7 separate regions of the Homo sapiens genome follow, and all the other regions are linked to region 6. The links come from fine-mapping of genetic effects on gene expression. A gene starts in region 6. Each other region holds a variant in brackets. All regions are shown on one strand. Distances are between the middles of the regions.

Region 1 (4,065 bases), 68 kb after region 6:
CAGCCCTGCCCTGGAGCTTCCTGGGCTGCGTGACCATGGGCAAACTCCTTAACCTCTCTAGTGTCAGCCTTCTCCCCCAGTAAAATGGGGTGGCCCACATCTCATTATGGGGTTGTGAAGATAGACGCAGAGCATGCATGCAGCACCCTGTACAGGGCATGGTGGTGGTGGCCCTCCCTACCCCCCAGCATCCACATCAGGAGTGGAAACTGAGAACATTGCAGGTACTAAACCCGGAAAGCAATCACACAGAGCCCTGGCGGGAGGAGCAGCAGCAGCTCCTGCTTTAATAGTGATCAACTCACCAACCTCTGCTCGCTGGCTCAGAACAGCACGCTGTAAGTGTCCCTGAATGAATCCAGCAGTGGTCTTGGCTGTAAGTGTCCCTGAATGAATCCAGCAGTGGTCTTGGCTGTAATCATCCAGATTTTACATAGTAGGGCCTTGCCACTGCTGGCCTCTCCTTTGTCCCTTGGGGAGAGACATGGTCACTTTCAGAGGCACTGGATTGATGGAGCCCTATGCCCCCTAACATACATTTCCCATCCCACCGCTCCTCCAGGGGTCCCAGGACCCCTGCACTGCACAGGAAAGGGGCTGAGCAGTACCCCATGAGCACGGGCCCAGTGTGAGGGGCCGCGCCGACAGCCTTCTAAAATAACCGCAGCACAGAAGGCCTGGAATGCATTTGGACTTATATTTGGAATTGTCGTTGGAAACAGTCCTGGCCAAATGTAATACCCATCTGTTCGGGATGGTTTGAGAGTAAGAAAATGAGGTGGCTCAGCTGGAGGGGGCTGGGCAGCCCTGAAACTCAGGGCTGGGAGGGTATGATGTCCCCTGGCCCCCACGCTATCCTGGAGCCCTCCTTCCCTCCAGCCTAGGCTGCTCCTGCCTTCTAGGACCATCCCCTCGTGTTAGCCTGCCCTGACTGGAGGTATTTCCCCTTGCCTGCAACCAGGCTTTCTTCCCGAACCTTCTGCCCGCTGGTCAGTCCTTCAGGAGTTCGGGACTGGGCTCCTTCCTGCTGAGTTTTTGCATCTCCAGGGAGAGCAGCCAGGTTTGGTGCCCAGCACTGAAAGCAAGCATCCGCTGAGGCCGTGAGCTGCCTGTCGCCTGGCTCCACCCTCCCACATTCCTCATGCCGTGCCCCTGTTAATGCATCCTGGGGTTGCATCCGTGCCCCTGCAGTTCTGTGATGATTGATCGTGAGCTGTGTGTTTTCCATTACATTGGTCTCCTTCCCCCACTTCCTCATGGGATAGTGGATTTTGAAGACTAAAAGGTAGACATTTCAGTTTGTTTCTGTACGTTTCATCTTGTTCCACAGTGTGCCTGTCTGGCCTTTTGACGTCCAGTGGATACTTGTTCTTGATATGTTTGCTGTTCTCAGCATTTTCTGAGTGGCTTTAACCTATCCGAGTGGCTTTCCCCCACCCAAGATTATTAACTCACTCTTTTCCCCTGGAGAGTAGTCAAGGGGGAAATGATAGCTTTGTTACTTGAAGACAATCTTAGGAAGCATTCGCTTAATTCTTGGGGAGAACCCAAAGAGTGCTCCCCCGTCTCAGTGCTCCCCTGTCTGAGTGCTCCCCTGAAGGGAAGTGCTCCTGTCCGCATTTGCCTTCCTTCATGCTTCCTTCTGGGAAATGTGGCCACATGACCCCAGTCCTCCCCTACCCTCAGGGCCACTGTTCCAGGGTCTCAGGGTGGCAGAGAAGTATTGGCAAAAATAACTCCTTGGAGTAATTGGTCTTCCTTAGAATTGGGGTTTAAAATCTGTCTGGTTTCCTAGGGCAGTCATAATAAATCACCACAAACTTGGCTTCTTAAAACAACAGAAATGTAGTCTCTTATGATTCTGGAGGCCAGAAGTCCTAAATCAAGATGTCTGCAGGGTTGGTTCCCTCTGGTGGCCCTAAGGGATAAAAGCCGTCCCCTGCTCCCAGCTCTTGGTGGCCTCCAGCAGTCCTTGGCGTTCCTTGGCTCATAGACGCCGCACTCCAGGCTCTGTCTCCGTCTTTCTGTGGTGCTGTCTGTCCTCTCCTCTTTTTATAAGGACACCTGCCATTGGATTTGGGACCACCGTAAATCCAGGAGGATCTCGTCTTAAGATCCTACACTTAATGACATCTGCAAAGACCCTATTTCCAAGAAAGGTCACATTCACAGGGGCTGGGCTTCAGACTTGGACATAATTCTTTGGTGTCCACTATCCATCCAACTACGGAATCCAGATGGTGGCCATGGCTTGTGGTGAATCTAGTCCCTGTTCAGATGTCTGTGACACAGCAGGATGCCAGGGACCCAGCATAGTTTCTCGCAGTGGGGTTCGAGGGGCTCCCAAAGCCCACTGCCAGTTCTCTGAGCAGATCCAAAGTACCCAGAGGTGACTGAGAGGCCAAAG[G/A]AGTCTCTTTTCATCCAGCCGAGGAAGGAGCGTGGCCTGGCTCTCAAAGGCTGTACATGTGACTCACAGGAAGTGAGGTAGTGAGTTCACTTTAACCCACCTCAAACAGATGAAAATCAGCCGTTTCACCTGCTAGGGGTGGGCTTGCCTGGTTGGAACAGTAGGTATGTCCCAGTTTTTCCTAGGGATTACTTCTTGATCTCTGAAGAATTGTATGGAATCAGCAGATTCCTCATGAAGTGACTTTGTATTTAAAATCAAGACAAGCTTAGGTGCTTTTGTTTTATTTATGAGCCAAATATCTGCAAGAAATGTTATTACCACAAAGAAAATTCTCAGTATGGAAACCTTCAGCCAGTGTTTGGGTTTGTGTGAGGTAATTTATGTGATGGAATTCCAGTTCCACCAAACAATTTGGGTAGTTCTGTGGGCATCTTTGGTAAAAACTGGGCTTCGAATACTTATTTAACGTGGGATTTTATGACAGTTTCAGAAGCATCTGTTACTTTTCATTGACGTAGTTTCTTGGGCTGAGCCATATTATTGACAGGACTCATAGGAAATGTGTGAGCCAGGAAGGGTACCCCTCAGACCAATTGCCACCTGGCACCCCTCAGTGCACACAGCCAAACCTTGCTTGAAGGTTCACGCGTGTCTGATTTTGGCACTTATTGACCAGCCATTTAGGTCATAGTAACCATGAGCGACCCTATGGCGACAGATGCCGTGTTTCAGTTTTGATGTGTCTTCTAATTCTGAAGAAGGAAAATAGCACAGGTGATGTTGGGGACACCAGTAATAAGCTGATGTGGTGTTGTCTTGGGGAATATTCTCAGGCGAGTGTGGATCTGGGGAAATCTACTCAGTGGCCACCGAGCCCCTTTGCTGACTGTCTCTTTGGACAGTTTGGCTGGCCAGGCTGTGGTAGATGGAACACTCCTGTTCCGGTGGGTGTTTTGATTCTAGGAACTCTGTGGGTAGATCTCAAACTGCTCAAGACTTCCAAGAGGTGTCCTCTGTGGACATTGGCCGTGGATGAATTCTAGAGGGCTGTGTCAGAGGCACCCGATGTGCCAAGGTGGGCTACGGAGGTGGATAGCTTCTGGGCCTGTCCCTAAGAAATGCTGCTCCTCATATCATGACCTCAATTAGAGGGGAGGGCAGTGGAGAAGGCGCATTTGCAACAGACCCTGCTATAAGGGAGCACAGTTTTTGCAGGGTAGTATGTGGCTGAAGGTCTGGGAGCGTTTGGAAGTATGGATGGCGGCTGGGCGTGGTGGCTCACGCCCGTAATCCCAGCACTTTGGGAGGCTGAGGTGGGTGGATCACCTGAGGTCTGGAGTTCGAGACCAGCCTGGCCAACACAGTGAAACCCTGTCCCTACTAAAAATACAAAAAATCAGCTGGGTGTGATGGCAGGCGCCTATAATTCCAGCTACTCAGGAGGCTGAAGCAGGAGAATTGCTTGAACCCGGGAGGCGGAGGTTGCAGTGAGCCGAGATTGCGCCATTCCACTCCAACCTGGGCAACAAAAGCGAAACTCCGCTTCAAAAAAAAAAAAAACGAAGACGGAAATATGGATGTCAGATACCTGGATGCATGGGTGCAGAATGAGAGTCACAGAATTGCCTTCCCTGGAAAGAGGGGAAGCCAGGTTG
Region 2 (4,065 bases), 96 kb after region 6:
TCACTACGGTCCCTTCCCTGACCCTGGCCAGGCCAGTGCCTTCGCCTCACTACGGTCCCTTCCCTGACCACTTACACAAAATAATACCTCTCCTGCATGGCCAGCCTCCCTGCTTGATTTGCTCACAGCTGTCACCTGAGACTGGACCATCTGTGTGTCTGCTGCTGCTTCAGCAGCCCTCTGCCCATCAGGGACCTCCGCTCCTTGAGGTGGGAACTCTGTTCATGGCTGCAGCCTCAGAGCCTGAATCAGTGACTGCACATAATACTCACTCAACAAACTTAGATGGGGCAAAGGCATGTGTGATGATGCTGTAGAGCAGGCAATCCCCCACCCCTCGGGCATGGGCCAGTAGCAGTCCTGGGCTACACAGCGGGAGGTGAGAAGCAAAGCTTCATCTCTATTTACAGCTGCTCCCCATCGCTCACATTACCACCTGAGCTCCACCTCCTAGTGGTAACGTTGGATTCTCATAGCAGCTCCAACCCTATTGTGAACTGTGCATGTGAGGGATCTAGGTGGCACATTCCTTACGAGAATCTAAGATCTGTTGCTGTCTCCCATCACCCCCAGATGGGACCACCTAGTTGCAGGAAAACAAATTCAGGGCTCCCACTGATTCTACATGATGGTGAGTTGTAGAATTATTTCATTACGTATTTCAGTATAGTAATAATAGAAATGAAGTGCACAATACATGTAATGAGCTTGAATCATCCCAAACCATCCCCCCCACCAAACTGTGGAAAAACTGTCTTCCATGTAACTGGTCCCTGGTGCCAAAAAGTTGGGGCCTGCCGCTCTGGAGTGTGAAGCAGGGAAAGAGGACCTCACCGTAAGGGCCAGGCTCACTTTCCTAAGGAAGGAACAGGGAGAGCCTAGAAGAATGCAGGCCTTGTGCAAATGTCAGAACCTCCAGCAGAGGAGAGGTCTGCAGGGTGCATGGGGGCTGTGACCCAGATGGCATCAGGAAAGAGGTGGCGTTAAGCTGAGCCCTAAAGACTGGCAGGATCTAGAAAGGTGGGCAGGCATGCCGAGAGGAGGGGCTGGGGTGAGCAGGGGCAGGGAGCAGGGAAGGCCAAAAGAGCAGGGAAGGTCTCAGTGCCTCCGGAAAGGAGTATACGAACATTCTGGGCTTTGGAGTCAGGGAGACCTGGACTACAATCCTGGCTCTGCCATTGTCCTCTGTGTGACCTTAGGCAGAGGGTTTGATGCTACTGAGCCTCTGTTTTCTTATCTGCAGAATGGGTATGCACTCAGACTCAGGCCCTTATGGCGATAAGGGTTCACGCATGTAATACCCTCCACATGGCATCTGGACCCTGGAGGTGGGGGCAGGTCACCTCAGCAATGGTCCTCAGGCACGATTGTTGTAGCAGTAGGAGGTGAAGCCACCCAGGTAAGTGGGCACAAGGTCAAAGAGGGTTTGGGTCTCAGGGTAAATGCCTTTGGTTGAACTAGTGGTGTATTGAGCTTCCCACACTGACATTTTCTGAGCAGAGGAATTATTGGTTAGCGCAGGGATTTAGGTCATTAATTTGGAGCAGGTAGAAGTGCCTGGAAATGGAAGGACTAAGGCTGAGGCTTCTATGGTCCAAGTGAGTGATCACAGGGGCTGGGAGTAGGAAGCACGGCTGAAGGGCCATCTCAAAGGCACTGTACCAATGGGATGGTGACATCACTACTGACGGCACCCACAGAGCTGGGGTATATGTATGCTTATGTGTAACTTCCCATTTTACAGAAAAGGAAGCTGGGGCTCAGGGAGGTTAGGTGACTGCTCCAAGGTCACACACTTAGTACTGGACCCAGTGTTGGAACCCACCAAATCTGACCCATCTTGTGCTTGTCACTAACTGAAGGATGTGGCAGGCAATGGAGGCAAGGTCAAAGGCAAAGTCAAGCCCCAAATGGTCAAAGACAAGGATTAGACTTGGAGCTGGTGTCCAGCCTGAGGGTGGAGGGGTGAGGGACATTTACCGTAGCAGGGGAAGGCTGGGTCGAGTCAACGTTCTTGCAACATCCGTAATTGCAGCGTTAGCTGGGCAAGTTAGATGGGTGGGGAAGTCCTACTTAACCACATAGACATTTCTTAAACATTTTATTTTTACTTCAAATATGTGAAGTACAGCACATCTATTTGTCTGCCTTTTGGTATGGAGCCAAAACCTTTTCTCTGAGCATGAGCCCACTGATTGGA[G/A]CTCTGGGTCATCTCTGTGGCAGAAACCACAGAGCAGTGAATCAGCACTGATTTCTGGTTTCAGTGTTTCTAAAGGGACATGAGAACTGGAAGGCGCTTGCAAGGCAATCTCGAGGCAGAGTCCTTCATTATTTGTGTGATTATTTTCCCCAAATCATTACCCTCATCTGTGCTGGGACTTTCCAAAGCTTCCAGCCTAGCATTCAGGGAGCAGCTCCCTTTCTGCATTAATATTTCATCAGCTTCCCTCAGTGGCTCTCCGAGAGTGGCCCAGGGACCACTTGCGACCCTTTCAGGGAATCCAAAGTCCAAATTCTTTTCACGGTCAAACTGAGATGTTGTTTGCCCTTGATGCTCTCATTTTCTCCAGAAGGTACAAATAAAGATTTTCAGAGCCCCCAGCCCCCAGCCCTGGCCTCTGACAGCCGACGGAATGCGTGCTTGTGTGTCTCTGTGCTTTGAAAGTCTCTCATCTTTAATTTTGAAGATAGTCAATATCAATCAATGCAAGCCACTGAAACAAAAGCTGTTTGGGATCTTCAATGATTTTTAAGAGTATAAAGGAATCTTTAAACAGTTTGAGGCTGGGCATGGTGGCTCACACCTTTAATCCCAGCATTTTAGGAGGCCGAGGCAGGAGGATCCCTTGACCCCAGGAGTTTGAGACCAGCCTGGGCAAGATGGTGAGACCCTGTCTCTACAAAGTAGGTAAGTAAGTAAGTAAGTAAATAAATAAATAAATAAATAAAAATTAGCAGAATGTGGTGGCACACACCTGTGGTCCCAGCTACTTGGGAGGCCGAGGTGGGAGGATCACTTAAGCACCAAAATTTGAAGCAGCAGTGAGCTGTGATCATGCCACTGCACTCCAGCCTGGGGGACAGAGCAAGACCCCACCTCTGAAAACAAACAAACAAACCCAACTAGTTTGAAAACTTGCTAGCTTATATGATATTTAATTAACCTGTGCCTTCATAATATCAAGAACAGCTGGCATGAAAAAGGCTCGGGGGCAAACACAATTGACTTGTGGTAAATACAAGATCAGCTGGAGGGTGTTTTGCCAAACGGCTGAAAGCCAGGAGAGCTGAGCACGCCCAGGATGTCTAGGGGACATGGACACACCTGTCACCTGCAATGGCCAGATGAGAGGCCATCCATGGTAAAGGGGATGAAAACGGTCATAACAGGGCCAGCTATGATTGAACACAGGGTGAGTGCCACGCCCTGTGCTGGGGCGTCTCCTCGTGTCTCATTAGATCCTCACTGCAACCCCAGGAGGAGGTTTTATCTTTATTCTGGTTCCGCCATTATAAAGGTGGGAGAATTGGGGCTCAGTCCCCTCAGCTAGTAAGGAGAAGAGCTGGTCCTTGATCTCAGGTCTGCTGGTCCCCAGAGCTCGAGTCCCAGCTTCAGCTTCTCAACTCTGAGTCTCTGAAAAGGGTTTCCAAGGAGGCGGTGGAACCGTGTGGACTCAATGACTTCAGACATGGTCTGGGGCTGGGAGGCCAGACCGAGCTGCTGCAGGTAGGGAGGGCTGAGGTCAGGGTTGGGTGCCATCTTCAGGTTGTGGAAGCAACAGCAATGCCAGGACAGCAGGGCCTCCTCCTCCCCTGCGACCCACTGTGTGCCCAGACTCCCAGGGACAGAAACTCCGTCCTGGGCTCCACCGCTGCCTTCACTGCATCCCCTCCCTGTCCCACATCCCCCTGCAGGCCAGAGCCGAGCTGAGTGTGCTGCTGGCCATGGGGCTCTTCGCAGGCGCTGTTGAGCAGATGGGACCGGCTGTGCCCTGGGCCCTTCCACCTCACAGGCTGACGCTTGCTCAGAGCCCAGGAACCTCGAGCCGCCCCAGACGCGGCCAA
Region 3 (4,065 bases), 55 kb after region 6:
GTGAGTAGAATTTTCAAGGGACTTCTGATTGACTCGTTTTTTCTGTATCCTAGGGTATTATCTCTTTAAAAAAAGAAAGAACAAAAGGCCAGAACAGAGCTGTTCACCTGGATGTGATTACGCATCCGACAGAAATGATAGGGGCCTGCAGGGATATGATACACTTGTCACTGACCAAAGAGACTCAGTCATCTGGCTCAGTCTCTCCCCAGATAAGTAACTTTCAGATGTGTCCTGTGGTCCTTGGCAAACTGTCAGGAAATCAAGTGTAGAGCTGATTGATGAATTTCCTTTTTCCTAAACACACACATATACACACACACATACACGCACACACACTGTCTCTCCTCAAACCCTCAGGAAATTTGGCTTCATCCTCTGAGAGAGTCTGTGCTGTTGGAATGCCTGCCTGTGTCTTGGCATCACCTCTGTGCTGGGACGTGTGTTTGCCATTTACATCCTTCACTCGTGAGGACCATGATGAAATGTGAAACTGGCTGGGACCCAGTTCCCGTTCACCCAGGCTGCACTGAGTAGGCGCCAGCTGCGTGCAGAGCAGTCGCCTCGCAGGAGACAGGGCGTGTGAGCCCTGTGGCAAAGCCCCTCTCTCTTTTAGTCTTAGAGTATGCTCTGTGATGAACAGTTACAGCTTCAAGGAAGGAAATCACACTCAAATTCCTCATAAGGGTTAGTGTTCCCACCCTCCTCCTTTCTCCTGACGCTTTGGAAGGAAATCATCTAGTACCAGCTCCAGGCTCCTGGTCTGCTAGACCAGTTCTCGGCTCCTCCCGGCTCTGAAATGTGGCTCAGCTCTGCCCCAGCTCTTTCTCTTTGTTAGATCCTGGGCAGAAATGTCAAGGCCTTTCATCATCTTGGGCCCCCAGTTCAGAGAGAACTCCATCTATTATTACTAGAACCATCTACTGTATAGAACATATATTGGAATACTATACAGGAAAACCATTTTCAAAACCACCTATAATTTCCCACCTAGATAACTGCTGTTTATGTTTTGGCGTGTTTTTCTGACAGACTGCATTCTCAGTGGGCCCTTAAAATGCCACAGAGCTGTGCACTGTGAGCAAAGTTAAATACTGTGAAACTGGGGGCCCAGGTGCTAGGGAAGGTTTCATTTTTGCTCCCCTTGGAAAGAGGAGCTCAGGGGTGGGGGCACTCAGTGTTGCATGGATCGCCTGGACTTCCAGACAGAAGTTTTTGGGGTGGAGGTGGGGTGTGGCTGTGGCAGGGGGGGGCATCCAACCTTCTCTCTTTGGAGTCCCAGATGCCCGCAAAGGCTGACAGCTTGGCCTCTCCCGCTGCTTAAGAGGAAGGCATCGGGGCCAGGTGTGGCCTCTGGCACCTAGAGCCACTCCGTGGGAGCCTGAATCACACCCCTGCTCACTTGGAGTGTTTTCTGTTTCCAGGGGAGGCCAGTGCCTCCACGATGTGGGATAATAATGCCTGGACGTTCTTCTACGACAACAGCACGGATGGCGAGCCACCGTTTCTGACGCAGGACTTCATCCACGCCTTTCAGCCAAATGCCAGACTGATTGTCATGCTCAGGGACCCTGTGGAGAGGTGAGCAGTTTCTGTGTGTTGTATTTGGGGTGAGAAGAGGAACTTTTGAAGAACAGTGTTCCCCTCTCATGACAAATAAGATTTTGTCTCCTTTAGAAAAAATTAAACAGGTCGGGTACAGTGGCTCATGCCTGTAATCCCAGCACTTTGGGAGGCCGGGGTGGGTGGATCGCCTGAGGTCAGGAGTTCAAGACCAGCCTGGCCAACATGGTGAAACCCCATCTCTACTAAAAATACAAAAATTACCAGATGTGGTGGCACACTCCTATAGTCCCAGCTACTCGGGAGGCTGAGGCAGGAGAATCGCTTGAATCCAGGAGGCGGAGGCTGCAGTGGGCCAAGATGGTGCAACTGCACTCCAGCCTGGGTGTCAGAGTGAGACTCCATCTCAAAAAAAAAAA[TA/A]AAATAAAATAAAAACAAACAAAAATAAACGGAACTTGCAACGTTACTGCTGTTTCTTACGTAAGTGTTATTCTTGAGGCTGTCCCCACTGAGTTGACACATGTTGCAGATGGTTTTCTTAACCATTCTGATCCTGGTCTGTGTGACTTCAGCCCCAGCAGGCCTGACCAGGGGCACAGGACGGTTCCTTGGTACTGTCAAGGCGAGGGAAACACCCTTAGAATCAGGGGTGTAAGCTTCTCCACGTGGTTTAACTCCTAGAATTCTGTGTCTCTCCACGTGGTTGATGCCTTTATCCTTGTCTGCGTTGAATGTACAGTTTCCAGCTTTCCTTGAGAGACCAAAAGGAAGAACAATGCTGAGCAGAGCAGCTTTGCTTTAAGATCAAGGGTTTCCCAGTGTGGGTGAGGCCAGGGTAGTGGGATATTGAACAGCCACTATGGGGCGGCCTGGCTGGCACTGGGCACTGCTTGCATCATTTATGCCTGTGTGAATGCAGAATCTCAGGGCTGCCAGGACCTGAAAATTATTTGGTCCAGTGCTCCCTCCAATACTTCCACATCAGAGCTAAGGGGGCACCTGTCTAATCCGAGGCCCTCTGAGTCAGGGAATTCTCCGCGCAAGATGGCCAGTGTAGCTTAGGACAGCTGTGTTCCTATTTTGAGACCAGGTCTGTTTTGGGGAAACATCCACTCATTGGTCCTCTTTCTTCTCCATAGAGTCAGACAGACCAAGTCTAATCCTTCCAAAACAGGAGAGGCTGGCGATATTTAAAGACAGGGACCACAGCCCTTTGTGTCTTATTTTCCTTTGGGCCAACTACATCTTCTTATGGATTGAATTGTGCCCCCCAAAAAGATAAGCTGAAGTTGTCTCCCCCAGTGTGTATGACTGTGACCTTATTTGGAAATAGGATCTTTCTTTGCAGATGCACTCCGGTTAAAATGAGGTCATACTGGATCAGGGTAGACCCTCACCCACCCTAAGACACAGGGAGCATGCCTCTTGACGAGGCTGGAGTGATGCTGCCACCAGCCAAGGGGTGCCAAGGAGTGCCGGCAGCCACCAGAAGCCAGGAGAGGAGTGGAACAGATTCTCCCCTGGCATCCCAGAGGAACCACCTCTGCCCCACACCTGGGTTTCAGACTCCAGCTTCCAGGACACTGAGGGAAGAAAGTCCTGTCATTACGCACCACGAGTTCGTGGTGATTTGTCCTGGCAGCCCCGGGAAACTGACCCCTGGGACCCCTTCTTCAGGTGGCATACCTTCCTGGCCCCACGTATTTGCCAATTATAACAATAAGGCGTGTTTGTTGTGGAAATTTTGGAACATATATTGGAAAACTGTTTTCAAACTATTAATTTCTCACCTAGATAACTACTATTTATGTTTTGGTGTATTTTCTTCCAGACTTTTCTATGCAAATAAGTGTGTGTGTGTGTGTGTGTGCACATGGGTGTGACAGGACAGTCTTATGTCCTGCTTCTTTCACTTTGCATTGTTGCCCCCCAGAAACATGCTTTAAAGTCTGCTCTGGTCACACTTCTGAGCTGATGTCCCTCTTGTGGAGTCTGCATGGCTCCCGCTGCTCTGAGTATGACCTGGTCAGGGAGAGGCTGGATCTGCCCTCCCTCAGCCCCAGCGCTCTGAGCCTGAGCTCTTGGTGGCTGTCCCGGTGCCATGCCTTCTAGCAGGTGCCAGGTGTGGTTTCGCTCCCTGCTCTCTGCATCTCCCAGCCCAGGACTTCTTCCACTCTGTTCTGAGGCAGGCACTGACTTGCCGTCCCTTGCCATGTCCCACCTGCTGGTTCCCGTGTTTTGGAGGCAGAAATCGGCCCTGCTGAGTGGTCTCCCTCCATCCAGCAGGGCTGACGCACACTAGCCGAGCTCTCATGGTGACATAACTGTCACCTCGAGCTGACCCCTCGCCGCCCCCGGAGGTGTTTGCATAGCTGCTCTGCCTCCCTCCCCGACACGGCCCCCAGCTGAAGGGCGCAAGTGCTCGGTGTGCTCATCAAATGTTTTCCTGTCGCTGCTGCTTAGTTCCTCATTCTGAGAAAGGTCAGACCACGCCTTAACCTC
Region 4 (4,065 bases), 27 kb after region 6:
GTAGTTTGACATTACGTATCTGGATAATTGCCTCAATGTATCATTTTCACTTTGCACCCGCAGACACAACCTTTAATGAAACTTGAAAACCCAACTCTCCTTGGGGGAAATGATACTCACTTCTGTTTCTAGGCCAGGCGCAGTGGCTCCCGCCTGTAATCCCAGCACTCTGGGAGGCCGAGGCCAGCGGATCACGAGATCAGGTGTTCGAGACCAGCCTGGCCAACATGGTGAAACCCCGTCTCTACTAAAAATACAAAAATTAGCGGGGCATGGTGGTGGTCGCCTGTAATCCCAGCTATTTGGGAGGCTGAGGCAGGAGAATCGCTTGAACCCAGGAGGCGGAGGTTGCAGTGAGCTGAGATCATGCCACTACACTCCAGGCTGGGTGACAGAGCAACACTCCGTCTCAAAAAAACCAAAAACACAAAAACCATCTGTTTCTAAATCTGTTTCTGAAAGTAGTTGAGGGCGCAGACTTCCACTTATAAGCTTAATTGCCCAACATGCAGAAGAAGTCTCCAACTTCCCTGTTTATCAGGCTTGAAAGTCAGCCTTGGTTTGGGGCAGATGGCCTGCTCCTGGTCCTTATCTGGGAGATGAGAGGTTCCGACAGTGTGATCTCTCAAGTGCCTCAGTTTGGATCTGAGCTTCTGTTCTAGCGGCTTCCATGCCCAACTGGATTGCATATCTTAGGAAGCAGGACAGAAGTGCACCTGCACTGATTACTGAGCAAATTGGTCTGAATAAGTGCAGTAGATGCCAGAGATTTCCACGAATGATGTGAATGTGATCACTGGCCAGAAAATATCCATGGACGATAAATATCTGGGCTTCATGCTCTGAAAAATGTTCCTAATCTCTTCTTTGTGATCCCCAAAGAGATTTTTAAGGGAGTTTGGAAGTCTGCCACTTGCAGAAGTCCTGGTGTTCCCAGCACTAAGTGCAGGATGTGGAGTCTGGGGTGCGACTGTCTTGTCACTCAGATGGGGCTGCATGCCCGGCACAGTGCTAAGTGCAGCCAGTTACTCTGGAATGTGCAAATGGCCCCTCTGCCCCAGCTGCAGAGCGCCTTGCGGGTGGCTCAGGTCCTAGTGGGGATAGGAAGAATGGGACAAAAGGAGGAGGCTAAGCCCAAGGCATGTGCTGTCACCAAAAGTGCTGGCTTCATCTCAGAAAGCTGTGGCTGGGTTGGGCTTGGTTGCTCAGGGGAACAGGGAGACGCAGCCCAGGAAATGAGCTGTGGCTGGGCTGGAGCCCACCTCCCCAGGAGGGAGGTGCATGGCAGCCCAGGTGGGGTGCCCCCATCCTAAGATGAAAGGTCTCCACCTCTTGCTTAAATTGTAAGGTGAACGCTTTTGGCCATTTCTAAGGAAAAGCACCTTTGGGATTTGTTCATCATCCTTCATTTTTGCTCAAGGTTTTGGGTGTGAAAACCTCAGAAAAACTAAGTCAACCAAAGACTTTCCAGCGATGTCATCGACTGTGTTGTCATCCAAAGGGGAAAATAATCCCAGCTTATGAATATTTAGAAAGAAGATAATTGCAAATTGCTTTGTGACCGTGTAAACTCGTTTTTTTTTTTCTTTCCCCCAGCCAGTTACATAAGAGGAGGTGTGGGTCAGTCCCAGAAATAGATGCAGAAGCAGTGACAGAACACGTCTTGGCGGTGGTGGAGAGAGACAGCCCTGGGTTCGAGTCCCAGACTCGCAGTGTGTTAGCTAAAGAAGTTTGAGAAACATCCGTCTCTTTCTTTCCATTTCAGCCTCCTCCCCCTTCCCCTAGCTGGTCGACGCTCAAAGCTCTCCTAGCCCAACACTCTGTAACTTGAGGAATAATGTTTTAAACCCCCAAATCTAGTCCTCCCATAAAACCCAGTGAATCTCTCAAATTGATTAAATGGAGGCACTCATTTTATTAGATAGGTAACTGGTATTTTGCCTTTTCTGAAGGGTAGAAGAGGGGAAAAAGTGACTGAGGGGACCAAATAAGAAAAAAA[AG/G]ACAAAAAGACAGAAGAATTCGGGTTTTTAGTTGATTCCGAATACTCGATGCTTTTGAAACGTTTCCAAGTTTCCTTTACGGGAAAGGAATGCAAATGATCCAAAAGGGAGGAGGGATTTTTTTCCCCCTTCTTTTTTGTCCTGAGCTCAGTACCTGGGATTTTGCGGCATGTGCTGAAAAATTATATCTTCTGGGTGCAGAAATTTGCCTGAAAGGGTTATACGAAACTGAGAATGGGTCAAAACAAAACAAAACGGAAAAAACAAGACTTCTGGCCACAGGTAAGAATCATATAATTTACTGAGACATATCATTTTGGCATGTTTTGTTAAGGGTGAAAGCTAATTTGGAAGAGGCAGGAAGGGGCTCTTGAGGTTGGTGGGAATGAGCTGCCGTAATGGGGCCCGCAGAATCACCCTTGTGTCTGCTCCCAGCAGGACTGGCGGGGGAGGGGCAGGGAGTAGCTCTCTGTGGGTGTCGGGAACCCCAGGGCCAGTGAAGCCTGGGGCCAACCCCCAGCAGTCCCACAGCAGGGTTGGGTGACAACAATTTGCCTGAAAGTCATGGAGAAACAGGTTTTCAGTGACATAGAGACTAAGCCTAGAGGCAGAATTGTAAAACCTACCAAGTTTTATTACTTATTTACTTTTTTTCTTCTTTTTGAGATACGGTCTTGCTCTGTCACCCAGGCTGCAGTGTAAGTGGCATGATCATGGCTCACTGCAGCCTGGATCTCCTGGTTCAAGAGATCCCCCGACCTCAGCCTCCCAAGTAGCTGGGACTGTAGGCACCACCACTATGCCTGGCTAATTTTTAAATTTTTTGTAGAGATGGGGTTTTGCCTTGTTGCCCAGGCTGGTCTTGAACTCCTGGGCTCAAGCCATCCTCCCACCTCGGCCTCCCAACATGTTGGAATTACAGGCAAGAGCCACCGCGCTCAGCCCAAATTTTAAATTTAACCCCCGCCCCCAACATGTATTGGGCATTCTGTCTTTATGACTGGGCTATGTTTTTATGTGTGTTGCCTGCCTACCTTTAGAATTTTCTTCAGGACTTTTTTTTGTAAAAGCGAACAAAAGAAGAGACTCTTTTGCCTTCACAGAGCTGATAGGACTGTCAGCTGGTTAAGGCGGATGCTAGTCAGACAAGCACACACAAAAAACGGAAGTGGGAAGGGTTGGAGGATCAGGGCAGGGCCAGTGTGGTCTGGGGTTTCAGGGAAGGGGTCCTTGCCTGAGATCTGAAGGGTGAGCAAGAGCGAATGCATCTAGCAGGGCCAGTGGTGTTGGGGAAAATGGGATCTGGCTAAGGAGGCTGGGAGAGGCAGAGATGGACACACAGAGACAGCGAGATAAAGGCCGCCAGCAGGAGTGGGGGCTCGGGGGTGGGGTTGGGGGGATGCAGTGCTGCAAGGGGGATTGAATGTTCCCAGGTACAGCCCAGCAACGAAGAGGGGCTCAGGGCTTGGGGGACCTGCCCAAAGTCACAGAGTGGGTATGGTTGTTTCATGATCTCGTGGTGTCTCCCGGGCCGCAAGCCCCACAGCGCCAGGGCTGTGCCTACGCTGCGCACCCTGAATCCCCATGGACTCCCAGTCAGGGGCTTGCGTTCTGCTCCGTGGCCACTGCTGTACCTTTGCAAGGATGGGGAAGGCCTTGGGGATGGGGAGGCCATCACACAGGCACTTTGACTGCATCAAGCGAAATTCTTACTTAATCTGAAATGACTTCAGGTCTGAAAACTGTGTGCTTTGATCAAATATTTACTTTTCCGAAACAGAAACCAGAGCAGGTCTTGATTGTACCAGTCAGCTTGAACCAGTCAGCTACAATGACTTTTCGTAAGTCTATTTTTTTTTTTGAGATTTCGTTTTAGCCCAGGAGGAAATCTGCTATCTGCAAGAAAGTCCTGGCCTTCATAATGAGGCCTGAATTCTTTCCAGATCTTATGAGAAAGATTCCACTCTTCTGTGATTAATTCAGAGAGGTTACTAATTTCTCATACCATAGATCGTTTGCTTTGTGGGAGATGACTGTGCCTCAGCCAAGATCCACTTATTATTTT
Region 5 (4,065 bases), 170 kb before region 6:
TCCATCTCCGCCCTGACCACCTGCAGATAAATCACCAGTGGAAACAAGTTTCCCCTCAAGGCTTCAGGTGTTTCCCTAATTTGTTCCTTAGAGCATTGTCTCAGGAACAGCATCCGGAGACACCTGTTTTTCTATGCGGATGTTTTCCACCTTGCATCCCAAGGAGACAGACTCCTCGGAGCAACCTTGGTAATAGCCAATCAAATGGCTTGCACTGCCAGTGCTCAGTCTGTGCTTTAGAAAGAGGAGATGTCCTTGGAAAAAAGGTTTTTGTGGTCACATAAGTTAGGGACAGTCTGGACTCTACTCGTTAAACAGGGCTCTGTGCTGCAGGACATCTCAGGGCCTTTAGCCAAGTCAGTCTTCAAGAGGGGCCTCCTGTGTGCAGGGCTTCTCAAGGACATTAGACCAATGAACACCTTGTCCATGGAGCATCTGTCTGTCTCCCAGACCTGGTGCTCTGGGGTTGTGTTTTTGGAAACAGTTGTCGGAGCTGGACTCACCTCTGGGGGTCTTGCCCAAAGCCCGTCATTTCACGTTGGGAGGGAGAAAGGAATTGCCAGACAGAGCCAGCAGGGGTTCCCTGGGCTCAGGACCTCTGGCCAGGCTCCTTCCTCCTGTGCAGGCCTCCTGGTGCCCCTGCCTCCTGCTCGGGGACACTTGTGTCCAAATTCCTGGGTCCCCAGAGGGACCAATTTTTCTTTCCAATGGGCTCTTCTGGAAGGGGTTTGGAAGGGTGCACTGGTCTGGGCTGTGCCCCCATCTGTGTCCAGGCCTCTGATGTGGACCTGTGGGAACCTTCCTTGCTGTACCTCCAGCCTCAGAGACAGCCATGTCCTAGCCCTGAGTCGGATACTGAGTAAAAAGCAATCATGACCCCCACATTCCCTGGCAGGGCCATTTGCAGGCCTCAGAGGGGGGATAATGAGTGTCTGGGTGGTGACTGTAGTAACAGGAACTCTGTGGGCCAGTGACAAGGCCCAGCTCTGGCCTCTCTGGGCCTCCCTTAATAGCCTGTGGATTGCAGCATGGATGGCAGCCAATGCCATGGGCTCTGACAGCTGGAAGCGCTCAGTGTCGCCAGCCTAGGGGGACTGCACTCGCTGAAGTGAAGCTTGAGGCTGGCAGAGAGAGGCCTGCATGTCAGGAAACCCTGTTCATATGACAGATTTGCTGTGTGACTTTCCTGTAAGGACCACCTCCCAGGAAGGACACAGGAGCTTCCTTGATTCCTCTGGCAGGTTTTTATGGAGAGCTGACTCAGCGGCAGCCTCGCGTGAGGCCCTGTGTCCCTGTGGTGTGCAGAGAGATGGCATCTTAGTTTGGGTTCCTGGAAGGCCAGGCCTGAGACTTGGGTGCAGGTGGGCTATCGGAGCAGATCCCAAAAAGTGGAGGCATGGGAGTGTGGAGAGTAGGAATAGGAGGAGGAAACACGAACACAAGGGCTGTTGAGATTGCTGCTGTGGGCCCTGAGGCTTGACACCATTGAGACCTCCTGGGTAGGGACAAAATTGTCCACTGGAAGGGCAGAGGACAGCTTACCCACTGGCTCACGACACCCCTGGTCAGAGGTTTGCCCTTGGGGACTTCACCCCCACACTTCCAGCTGTGTGTGCTTGGCCTGGGCAGACTCCCATGTGCCTGGAGACACGCACGAGGCAGGTGTGAGACCAATGCTTTCAGGGCCAGGGAGTGTGAGGTCAGCTAGCGCCTGCCACCAAGATGCTGAGGCAGAGGTGGGCTCAGGGGTGGGTGCCTCGAGGGGCACCGGGGGTGTCTGTCACATGCCGTTTGTCTGTCCCTAGGGCATGGTGAGATTGGAGGGCCTCCAGCTGGTGGAGAAGAGAGTACGGAGTGAGGCCTGAGCCTCCTGTCCCAGGGCGTGTCTCCCGCCCGGCTTCCATCGCAGTCCCTTCATTACCCTTGCACGACACCACGGTACCTTGAGCAGACCAAGGTAAAGGGCTTACTTCTGGAAAATGTGGTCAGAGGAGTCCAGCTCCCCAGCACACCTTCCTGGCCCGAAAGCTCTCTGGAGCTCTAGAATGTCCTTCCAAGGTGCTGAGTAATGATTTACTCATTGCTGTCAGATAGGGAAGTCTTACCCAGCTTCTTGAAAAACCAAGTTAGAAAATCAAGCTGGGCTTTTTTTTTTTT[C/TC]CCCATAGAAGCTGAATTAGTAATAGAATTTTTAAAAATGTGGTCATGAAACTGTTAGTCTAAACTTGAACATGAGCCCTGCTAAGGTGGCTGAAATGGTTCCTGAAACCTGGGGGCTGCCGGGCTGGTGGAAGAGCTCCTCCTCCCTGTAGGGCATACCTGCGAAGCTCCTGGCTGGGGAAGCTGCACCGCAGGGGATGTGCATTCTCAGGACCCGGTGTACTCCTCGTGGCTCTTGGTGGGCAGTGGGCATGGTTTCTGGAGGCGCCGTGGAGTGGCACTAATTCCGTCATGCAGGGCTGTTCCCCAGCTGAAGGAACCTGCTCTTTCTGCACAGCCAGGTTTGATGTCAGGATAACTCGAGTGGAAGTGAATGTCCTTTCCTGTCTTCTAGGAAGGTTCCCCAGGGAGGCTCCAAGGCAGAGGTGTGTCCCGGGTCTGGGGGAGGGTGGAACAGCACCACCTGAAAGCAACTGGGCCTGGGGCAGCCACTGGGGAGCCCGGATGTTCTGGGCACTGTGCTGGGGCTGGGAGTCAGGCAGGGGTGGGTATTGGAGAGCAGGGCTGTGGTGGGAAGGACAGAGCCGGTAGGGGCAACAGCAGCAGGAACAAGGTCTCTAGTCCAGTGGGTCAAATTCCAGGTTCCAGAGCCCTGGGTGGGAAACCACCATTGCCCCACCAAGGCCTTGTCCAGCCTTGGCTAGGCCAGTGGTTTTCAGCTTAGCCAGGGACCCAGCAGACACAGGCATCAGATTTAGGAACAGCACAGGATGGAGAGAGAGCATTTATACTGGAAGCCAGAATTAGGATTAAAACAAGATCCATTGACTGGGGAGAGGGACAATCTTGGCAGAGGAGAGGATTCAGGAAGAAGGGGACAAGTCCTGTAAGGGGTCTACTGTGTGAGTGCAGGGGGCTGGGGTGGGGAGGTGGAGGGATGGAGTCAGCAGCCTAGATAGCACATGGCTGGGGGTCTGCATACCCACACCCTCCACTGGGAGGGCCCCAAGGCCATGTCTGGGACGTGCCCCTCCTGGGCTACCACTGATTGGATGAGAGAGGGGGCTTGATCTAGGGGGATCCAATCAGATTCAAATCCAGGGAATTTGGGATTGGATCAGAGATGTTGGTTGGTTGGATGGTGGCACTGGAATGGAGACAGCCATGCACATCGGAGTGTTTGAGGCAGGTGCAGGGGCAGAAGATCTGCAGGAGAGGGAGGATGAGAGCCTGAGGGCCCGAGAGGGGGTGAGGATCTGCACAGCCCTGGGTAGGGCGAGTGGGGGTTGAGAAGGCAGTGGCTCGAGAAGGCAGTGGCTCCTTCCAAGCAGAGTCTGGTCCCCACTGCCCGTTCCCACACTTCCTCAGTTCTTGGGTTCCTTGATGTGTTCCCATGCCGGTGGTTTAAGTCCACTGTTGTGAGCTGATCTGAGTAGGCTTCATTTACTGCACCTCAACAGGCCCTGGAGAGCCGGGGACCTCACTGTCATGGTGGGACAGATGCCTACGGGAGGAGAAGTGGGCAGGAACAGGGCCCGGGTGGGAACGAGTGGGCAGTACTGCTGCCCTCTGCGTGGCAGGACCACACTAGATCCCTGCAGCCCACTTGGCACCACCTCTGGAGAAGGGCAGCTCAAGCTGGTGACTGCTCCGTGGAGGGTGGCCCTGGTGTCGAGGGACCTGCCCCCCGGCAGCGAGGAAGGACTGCAGGGTCCCACCTTCCACCTGGAGAGAAGCTGAGTCAGTGAAGGACGGAAAAAGCATGTTCGATGTTTGAAGACTTGTTAGAGGAAAAGAGGAGACTGTTCTGTGCTCTCCAAGGGTCTTGGGTTCCAAAAGTCGAGGGTCCACTGTTGGCTCAGTGTAGGGGAAACCTTCTCCTGTGCCAGCCTGCTACAGCACTGGAGG
Region 6 (4,065 bases):
CCATGTCAACCGTGGTTTCTGACACCTGAATTTGAAAGTGATCTGGGTGGGCCCAGCGCCATCTCCATAACGGAGTTATGTGTTTACTTGGAGGGAGGAGAGGAAAGGCATTATTCCCTGGCAGTATGTGTGGCCCTGGAATAATGTTCCACACACCCTTACAGAAGGGGATTTCCTCCTTGCTGTTTCCACAGACCCTTCCCTGTGTTTGTTTAAACCCGTTGCACACTGGTCTGACAGCTGCCTGGCCCAGGGCCTTCCTTGCAGACGCATGTACAACCAACCCTCTTTAACAGCAACCTGCTCTGTGTCCCCTGATGCAATTACTCGAGTATATAAACCTCACTGAAAGGCAGGCTTTTCTTGGGAGCTAATAAATAAGCCCCAAAGCCACAACGTGTGTGAGACCTTGAAAAATGGCATCATCATCTATTGGGAATTGTGAACCCTGCAAAAAGCAGCTCGTTGTATTTTCAGAAATAGGTTTTTGTTTAAAAAAAAAATAAAGAACAAAAATCACTAAGTGGAGTCTATATGGAAAAAGCAATCTAGTCTGAGATTCTAAGGCAAGTCTCTTTGCTGCATTCATCTTTCTTCGCAGATTTTATGTAAGAGGCATTATTTGCAGGAAAACAAGACAGGATTTTAAAGAACTCCCCTCTCATCCCGGTTTCCCATCTGCAGTTATAATCCTCTGATGGTGACCTCTGCATTAGTTGCCATGGGTGCTGAGCAGAAGTTTATGACCTCAGGGTGGACTGTAGCTTCAGGGGGGCGAGATGAAGCCTCCGGCAATAAAGAGATAATGGGGAGAAGCCACTGTCAGGAATGACCCTTCGGTGGCATGTAGTCTACAGTTAACGGAGCACTTTCATTTCCACTTCTGGTTGCTTCGAGGAAGAGGGTGCTGGACTCTGGCCACGGGGACACAGGCCGGCAAGAGACTGCAGATTCTTTTTGTCCCTTGGACCTCAGTTTCCTGAGAGGCTGGGCTTGGTGCTCCAAGCGCCCTCTGAGCGAATCTGCCAGAATTTCATGTGTCTTTTCTTTAACTGATGGCATCTTCAGCCCAGAGTCAGTGGAGTCGGCCACTGGTGCCGCTTTCTTGCCCTCGGGCTGTCCAGGTGGTTCCCTGGGGCAGCCGACTCCAGGCCACTGCGGCAGGCCGTGGCGATCGGGGTCCTGCAGAGCTTTACCTCCCCCGCGGAAGCAAAACACGCCGGGCCAAAGAGCCGGGCCAGCCTTCCCGGGATGCAAAAATACAACAGAGGGCGCCGAACTCACCAGCGCTGTGGCCTTGAATATTAATGTACGGGCTGGCTCCAGACCGCCAAGTTCCTTAAAGATGTCTCTGGCGGCCGGGCGCGGTGGCTTACGCCTGTAATCCCAGCACTTTGGGTTGGGGGGGCGGACGGATCATCTGAGGTCGGGAGTTCGAGACCAGCCTGACCAACATGGAGAAACCCCGTCTGTACTAAAAATATAAAATTAGCCTATTTTGCGTGGTGGCGCATGCCTGTAATCCCGGCTACTCGGGAGGCTGAGGCAGGAGACTCTCTTGAACCCGGGAGGCTGAGGCAGGAGACTCTCTTGAACCCGGGAGGCGGAAGTTGCAGTGAGCCGAGATCGCGCCATTGCATTCCAGCCTGGGCAACAAGAGCGAAACTCTGTCTTTAAAAAAAAGAAGTATCTGGCAAGGTGTCACTGCCAGATTTCAGGGGTTTCGATGTGCTTTTATTTGGAATCACCGCAACACACAAGCAGTGTTGACTCGGAGGGGGAGGGGGCAGGGGCCAAACCCACCGCTCGGCGCACACGCCTTGATCTCACATTCCAGACTGGAGCTGATGTGTGTCAGCGCGACATGGGGCGGGGGGAGGGTTCTCCTCGGATGTTTCATTCGCCGTCTGCACGTCACTCCCAAACTTTTCCTCCCAGCGCTCGGGGAGTCAGGTTGACGCGCCCTGGATGCGGGGCTAGAGGCTCGGGGCTGGGCGCGCTCCCGCGGAGCCGGAGCCGCAGAGGCTCCCGGGCTGGACTCAGGCTTCTCAGGTACAAGTTAGGTGCCAGACGCCGAGGTGGGGTCGGCGAGGAGCGGCGGTAGGAGGTCTGGCCCTGGGCTCGGGGCTCCGGCGCCCCTCCGCGGGTTCGGGCCAGGCAGCGCCGGCGGCGGCCGGGGCTGGGCGTAGGGAGTCCGGGCCGGCGGAGGCGGCGCGCAGCCTCACTCCCCGCGGCGCTCCCGGCGCGGTGGTGGCGGTGGCGGTGGCGGCGGCGGCCCAGGCAGACAATGAACTTGCGAGCTCGACGAGCCGAGGCAGGTTTGGGCCCCGGGCTCCTTGGCCCGGCCTCCCCGAGGCTTCAGCGATCCCCAGCGGGAGGAGTCCCTTCGCCATTGGTCCTGGCCGCGCTCCGGGCGCCCTGCGCGCTTGAGGACCCCGCGGGAAGGGTTACCCAGCGGCGACACACGCCCCCTCCCTCGCAGAGAGGACGCGGCCGGAGCGAGGGGACAGGGGACCGAGCAGTGGCGTGGTGGCGCCGTGGATAGCCGGAGGCCGGCGGGGGGCGCAAGCCGCGTGGAACGCACCGGCGGGCTGTCCGGGAGAAGGAGCCCAGTAGTCGGAATCGGGGCGCCCCTGCACCGCCCAGCTCTGGGAGCCGCAGGCGGGGGACCGACCGACGGACAGACCAGTGCTTTCACGGTGTGAGCGCGCGTCGTTTGGCGGTAGGGGACGGGGATTCCCCCCAGCCTTGCGCTCCGCCCCCACACCCCTATCGCACTTTGGGGAAGTTTCCAGGCGCGGCCCGGGGCAGGTAAGTGGGCATCCGCCACTCTCTCCCCGGTTGCGAGCTCGGATGCGCTTCCAGAACCCTGGCTCTAGCCTTGCGGCGGTTCCGGGCGGGGAGGCCAGAGCTCTCCCGCGCCTAAGCCCGTGGGACCCGGTTCAGGGAAGGGGGATGGCGGGGGCGGGCCTGGGAAGAGATAGGGGAGCGGCTGAGCCCCGAGCGGTGTGAACTTTTGCTCCCCGCCCCCTCCTCCTTCCTCCTCCCCGCCCCGCCCCCACTGCTGTCCCCTCCCTGCGCCCCGCCGCGTCTCGGGAGGCGGCGTGACTCGGGAGTTGCCGGCGCTTCCCGGCGGTGGCGGCGTCTCTGGCCGGCCTTGGTGCGGCGAGCCGAGCGAGGCAGCTCTGAGCCGCGCGGTGAGGCCAGAGGCGGGGAGCCGGGGCTGCGGGGCGGCGAAGCTGGGGAGCCGGATGGCAGCGGCCGGGGCGCGGAGGCGACGCTGGCGGTGGAGATGTAATGCGAGTCTGTTGGGTTGTGTGTGCCGGGAGATAGGACGCGGTGGCTGTGGGTGGCTGGGTGGCGGGCTGTGGCGCAATTGGCCCCCTGGGATGGCAGGATAGAGGCGCCGGGGCGAAGGGAACCTTGCCTTTGGGAAAATGAATGAAGAGCCGTGGAAGCACCTTCCCGACTCCTCCAGGCAACCGATGGGCCGGCGTGCGCGCGAGTGTGTGCGTGTTGAGGCTTCGGAGCCGCCCGGGTCCTGGGCACAGCTGCTTGACCTCCCCGTCGCTGTCCGGGTGCCCACGTTCCCGCCCGCCCTGCGCCCGGGGCCGGCCGGCGCGGCTGGGACGGCGGGTATAGAGGAGGAAGGCTGGGGCTGGGTTGCCGGCTGCTGGCGGCTGGAGGTCCGCGCCCAGTGTAGGGAAGTCTTCGAAGGAGGCTGCCAGGCTGGAGGCTGGGACCAGCTCCTGGGGGCGGGGGCCCTTCTTCGTCTGCCTGCGTGCGCGGAGCCGCTGTGACAGCTGGGCGCCTTCGCCTTGTTCACGTTGGTTAAGTTAATTGTACCGAGTTCTCGGGAATGAAGTGTGGCTCCGGGATGCCCCGCAGAGGGATGTGACAAGCCGGTCAGTGAGGCTGAGCAAAGGGGCTAACCTTGCCTCTGGGCGCCCTAGCAGTGCCCCCAGCCCCTCTTTATCAGCTGCAATTCCTGAGTGTTGTGGGATGCCTCGGTGGGTTAGGGTAGCCACCCAGCGTTGGGGCAGAAAGGCCTCGGAGGGCATCTGC
Region 7 (4,065 bases), 100 kb after region 6:
GACCCACTCATCTCCCTGCTGTTGGTGCCCCTCCAATGGGGCTGTCTGTTTGGTTCTACCCCATCAGTGCCCTCTATAGGCTGCTGCTGGTTGGGGGGCCGGGGGCCTCGCACAAACCGCCGTAGGTAGAAGGGTGGGGGGCGCCATCGTCTGGGCCGCTGCCCAGAGTCTTCGGCCCGCTCCCCTTCGCCGCCAGGTTCTGTCCCCCGAGAGGGGATCTCTGCCACCATGGGTGGTGGGGCAACTGAGGGAGGCCGGGGATGAATCAGCGGAACCTACGTCGGTTGGGGGCATAACGGTGCCCTTCATGGGCACCCCCGCCGCCCTGGGCCCAGTTACATTAGTGGCTTCTGCGCCCTTCTCTCCTTCCACGACATCAAATTCCACAGTCTCCCCATCTCTAACGCTGCGCAGAAACTTCCTGGGGTTGTTTCTTTTAACAGCTGTCCAGTGAACGAAGACATCTTCCTTGGCGTCATTCCTGTTGGTGAATCCGTAACCACTCCGGACGTTGAACCGTTTGGCAGTGCCCAGGCAGGACTCGGGTTGCCAGCACCGGCTTGTCCGCCTGACTCCGGGCGGGGGTTCCCGAGGCCGCCGTCGCCGGGTTGCCAGGGGTGCGGGGGCCCGGCGCCGAGGGGGTCCCAGCAGCGGGGTCCAAGGCGGCTGCGTCCCCGCCGCAGCCGCCCGCCCCGCCGCCTGCTTTCTGCGGCTCCCCTGCGGGCACCGGTACCACCACCGCTACCACCCCTGCCACCGTCGCGGGCACCGTCGCCGCGGGGACCGCTGTCGCCACCGCTGCCGCCTCCACCTCGCTCATCCCGCCGGGTCCAGTACCGGCCCCCGCCGCCACCGCCTCCTCCGCCGCCGCCGCCACCGCCCCGGCCCCTCCCCCCGGCTGGCGAACCCGCTGCGCTGCGCGATCCTCGCGCCCCGAGCCTCGCCCGGACGCCCAATGTCTTCATTCTTAATTGCTGCACTTCTTTTTTTTTTTTTTTTTTTTTTTTTTTTGAGATGGAGTCTCGCTCTGTCGCCCAGGCTGGAGTGAAATGGCTGATCTCGGCACACTGCAACCTCCACCTCTCGGAGTCAAGTGATTCTCCTGCCTCAGCCTCCCAAGTAGCTGGGATTACAGGCGTGTGCCACAACGCCCGGCTAATTTTTGTATTTTTAGTAGGACGAGGTTTCACCATGTTGGTCAGGCTGGTCTCAAACTCCTGACCTCAAGTGATCCTCCCGTCTTGGCCTCCCGAAGTGCTGAGATTACAGGCATGAGCCATCATGCCCGGCCTGCACTTCTTAATCGCTCCCTTTCCCCAGTCCCTCAAGCCCATGCTTGTTCACGTATCACAGCCCCTCACCAACCAGTGGCTATGCCTCTTGGAACACGGGGCCCTCTCAGCCCATGCACCAGAAGAGGGAACTACCATTGCCTTAGCTGAGAAGCGACCCATTTAAGTCCACTCACATTTCAGTTGCCAGAACTCGATCTGTGTCCCCATCCAGCTGTGAGACGGCCAGTCTGCCTTGGCCTGGATGGAGAGATGCTGTCAGGAAC[C/T]TGCGCTGTCTTGCATTTCACTGAGGACTCCTATGAGACTCTGCAAGGAGAAAAACCATATGATCGTCTCAATCAACGTCAACAAAAGGATTTGACTAAAGGTAACATCCCTTCATGATGAAAATCACCAACAAATTAGGTGTGAAAAGGAACATATCTCAACACAATAAAGGACATATATGACAAACCCACAGCTAATATCATATTGAATAAAAAAAAGCTGAAAGCTTTTCCTCTAAAATCTGGAATAAGACAAGGATGCCCACTTTCACCACTTGTATTCAACATAGTACTGGAAGTCCCTGCCACAGCAATTAGGTAAGAGAAAGAAATAGAGAGCATCCAAATTGGAAAGAAAGAAGTCAAATTTTCTCTGTCTGCTGATGACGTGATCTTCTAAAGTCTTCACCAAAAAAACCGTTAGAATTCATAAGTTCATTAAAGTTGCATGGTACAAAATCAACATACAGAAATTAGTACTGTTTCCATACACCAATAGCAAACTATCTGAAAAAGAAATCGAGAAAGCAATCCCTGGGCTGGGTGTGGTGGCTCACGCTTATAATCCCAGCACTTTGGGAGGCTGAGGCAGGAGGATTGCCTGAGGTCAGGAGTTTAAGATCAGCCTGGCCACATGGTGAAACCCGTTTTGTATCTACTAAAAATACAAAAACTAGCTAGGCATGGTGGTGCACACCTGTAATCCCAGCTACTTGGGGGGCTGAGGCAGGAGACTTGCTTGAATGCGGGAGGCAGAGGTTGCAGCGAGGCGAGATAGTGCCTCTCCCCTCCAGCCTGGGCAATAGAGTGAGACTGTGTCTCAAAAACAACAACTACAACAACAAACCAAGAATACATTGAATCAAAGTGGTGAAAGATTTCTACAATGAAAATATAAAATATCAATGAAACGAACTGAAGAGGACACAAATAAATGGAAAGGTATTTTATGTTCATGGGTTAGAAGAATTAATATTGTTAAAATGTTCATACTGCACAAAGTGATCTAGAATTTCAATGCAATCCCGATCAAAAAAATTAACATTCTTCACAAAAATAGAAAAAACAATCCTAAAATATGTACCAAACCATAAAAAAACCCAAATAACCAAAGCAATCTTAAGCAAAAAGAACAGAGCTGGAGGCATTAAACTACCTAACTTCAAGATACACTACAAAGCTATAGTAACCAAAACAACATGATATTAGCATAAAAACAAGACATATAGACTAATGTGAGAGAATGGAGAACCCAGAAATAAATGCAAGCAGTTATAGCCAACTGATTTTTTTTGACAAAGGTGTCAAGAACACACACTGGGAGACAGGACAGCCTCTTTAGTAAATGGTGCTGAGAAAACTAGATATTGACATTCAGAAGAATAAAACTCTACCACTTTCTTTCACCATATTAAAAAAAATCAACTCAAAATGGATTGAAGAGTTAAATGTAAGACCTGAAACTGTAAAACTACTAGAAGAAAACATAGGGGAAATGTTTTAGGACATAGGCCTGGGCAAGGATTTTTTGTTGCCTATGCTCAAAAGCATAGGCAACAAAAGCAAAAATAGACAAATGGTATTATAGCAAACTAAAAAGCATTTGTACAACAAAGGAAACAATCAACAGAGTGAAGAGACAATCTATAGAATAGGAGAAAATATTTGCAAACTATGCATCTGACAAGCGGCTGATATCCAGAATATATAAAGAACTCAACTCACTAGCAAAAAACTAAATAATTGAATTTTAAAATGGGCAAAAGATCTGAACAGATATTTATCTAAAGAATACATAAACATTGCCAACAGGAGTGTAAAAAAATGCTCAACATCACTAATCATGAGGGAAATGCAAATAAAAACCATAATGAGATATTACCTCACCCCAAGTAGAATGGTTATTACCAAAAAGACAAAAAACAAAAGAAATACTGGCAAAGATGTGAAGAAATGGGAACCCTTATGTAATAGTCTGTTCTCACGTGGCTAATAAAGACATACCTGAGACTGAGTAATTTATGAAGGAAAGAGGTTTAATTGACTCACAGTTCCACATGGCTGCAGGGGCCCCACAATCACAGTGAAAGGTAAAAGGGAAGCAAGACATGTCTTACATGGCAGCAGGCATGAAGGCTTGTGCAGGGGAACTGCCCTTTTATACAATCATCAGATCTCACGAGACTTATTCACTGTTATGAGAATAGCATGGGAAAAACCCACTCTCAAGATTCAATTACCTCCCACTGGGCCCCTCCCATGAAACATGGGCATTATTACAATTCAATATGAGACTTGGTTGGGGACACAGAGCCAAACCATATCACCTTATATACTGCTGGTGAGGAATGTAAACTAGCACAGCTGTTATGGAAAACAGTATGGAGGTTCCTCAAAAAATTAAAAATAGAGCTACCGTATGATCCAGCAATCTCACTGCTGGGTATACTGTATATATCTAAAGGAAATGAAGCCAGTATGTCAAAGAGACACCTGCACCTCCATGT

Which allele goes with the higher level. Positions count from the first base shown, and alleles are read on the strand shown. Sizes are in standard deviations (SD) of each study's normalised expression. Not every link is listed here.
In carriers of allele A in region 2, the expression in fibroblasts of the gene that starts at base 1,923 in region 6 tends to be higher than with G alone (large effect, 0.92 SD a copy in GTEx).
In carriers of allele G in region 4, the expression in activated naive CD4 T cells of the gene that starts at base 1,923 in region 6 tends to be higher than with AG alone (large effect, 1.3 SD a copy in Schmiedel 2018).

The links. PIP is the estimated chance that this variant, and not a neighbour inherited with it, causes the effect.
Region 1: its variant is fine-mapped to the expression of CHST15 in whole blood (TOPMed, PIP above 0.99).
Region 2: its variant is fine-mapped to the expression of CHST15 in fibroblasts (GTEx, PIP above 0.99). The same link has a PIP of 0.9 or more in whole blood.
Region 3: its variant is fine-mapped to the expression of CHST15 in whole blood (INTERVAL, PIP above 0.99).
Region 4: its variant is fine-mapped to the expression of CHST15 in activated naive CD4 T cells (Schmiedel 2018, PIP 0.95).
Region 5: its variant is fine-mapped to the expression of CHST15 in monocytes after R848 (Quach 2016, PIP 0.95). The same link has a PIP of 0.9 or more in monocytes after Pam3CSK4.
Region 7: its variant is fine-mapped to the expression of CHST15 in whole blood (TOPMed, PIP above 0.99).

The regions. Positions count from the first base shown.
Region 1 is chr10:124,023,752-124,027,816 of GRCh38, reverse strand. The region is part of intron 5 of CHST15 (carbohydrate sulfotransferase 15); the gene reads left to right. Among named protein-coding and RNA genes, the nearest start is that of CHST15, 68 kb to the left of the region's middle. RefSeq lists enhancers at 472-1,468, 2,174-2,343. The variant G/A (reference allele first, on the strand shown) is at 2,408.
Region 2 is chr10:123,995,713-123,999,777 of GRCh38, reverse strand. No RefSeq gene overlaps it. Among named protein-coding and RNA genes, the nearest start is that of CHST15, 96 kb to the left of the region's middle. RefSeq lists an enhancer at 4,048-4,065. The variant G/A (reference allele first, on the strand shown) is at 2,201.
Region 3 is chr10:124,036,031-124,040,095 of GRCh38, reverse strand. CHST15 (carbohydrate sulfotransferase 15) reads left to right here. Exons shown (of 8, transcript NM_001270764.2): 5 at 1,425-1,581. Among named protein-coding and RNA genes, the nearest start is that of CHST15, 56 kb to the left of the region's middle. RefSeq lists a silencer at 3,876-3,925. The variant TA/A (reference allele first, on the strand shown) is at 1,983.
Region 4 is chr10:124,063,981-124,068,045 of GRCh38, reverse strand. All of the region lies in intron 1 of CHST15 (carbohydrate sulfotransferase 15), which reads left to right. Among named protein-coding and RNA genes, the nearest start is that of CHST15, 28 kb to the left of the region's middle. The variant AG/G (reference allele first, on the strand shown) is at 2,000.
Region 5 is chr10:124,264,623-124,268,687 of GRCh38, reverse strand. No RefSeq gene overlaps it. Among named protein-coding and RNA genes, the nearest start is that of OAT, 150 kb to the left of the region's middle. The variant C/TC (reference allele first, on the strand shown) is at 2,158.
Region 6 is chr10:124,091,456-124,095,520 of GRCh38, reverse strand. It overlaps CHST15 (carbohydrate sulfotransferase 15), which reads left to right and starts at 1,923. Exons shown (of 8, transcript NM_001270764.2): 1 at 1,923-2,052.
Region 7 is chr10:123,988,503-123,992,567 of GRCh38, reverse strand. It overlaps the pseudogene YBX2P1. Among named protein-coding and RNA genes, the nearest start is that of CPXM2, 99 kb to the right of the region's middle. The variant C/T (reference allele first, on the strand shown) is at 1,559.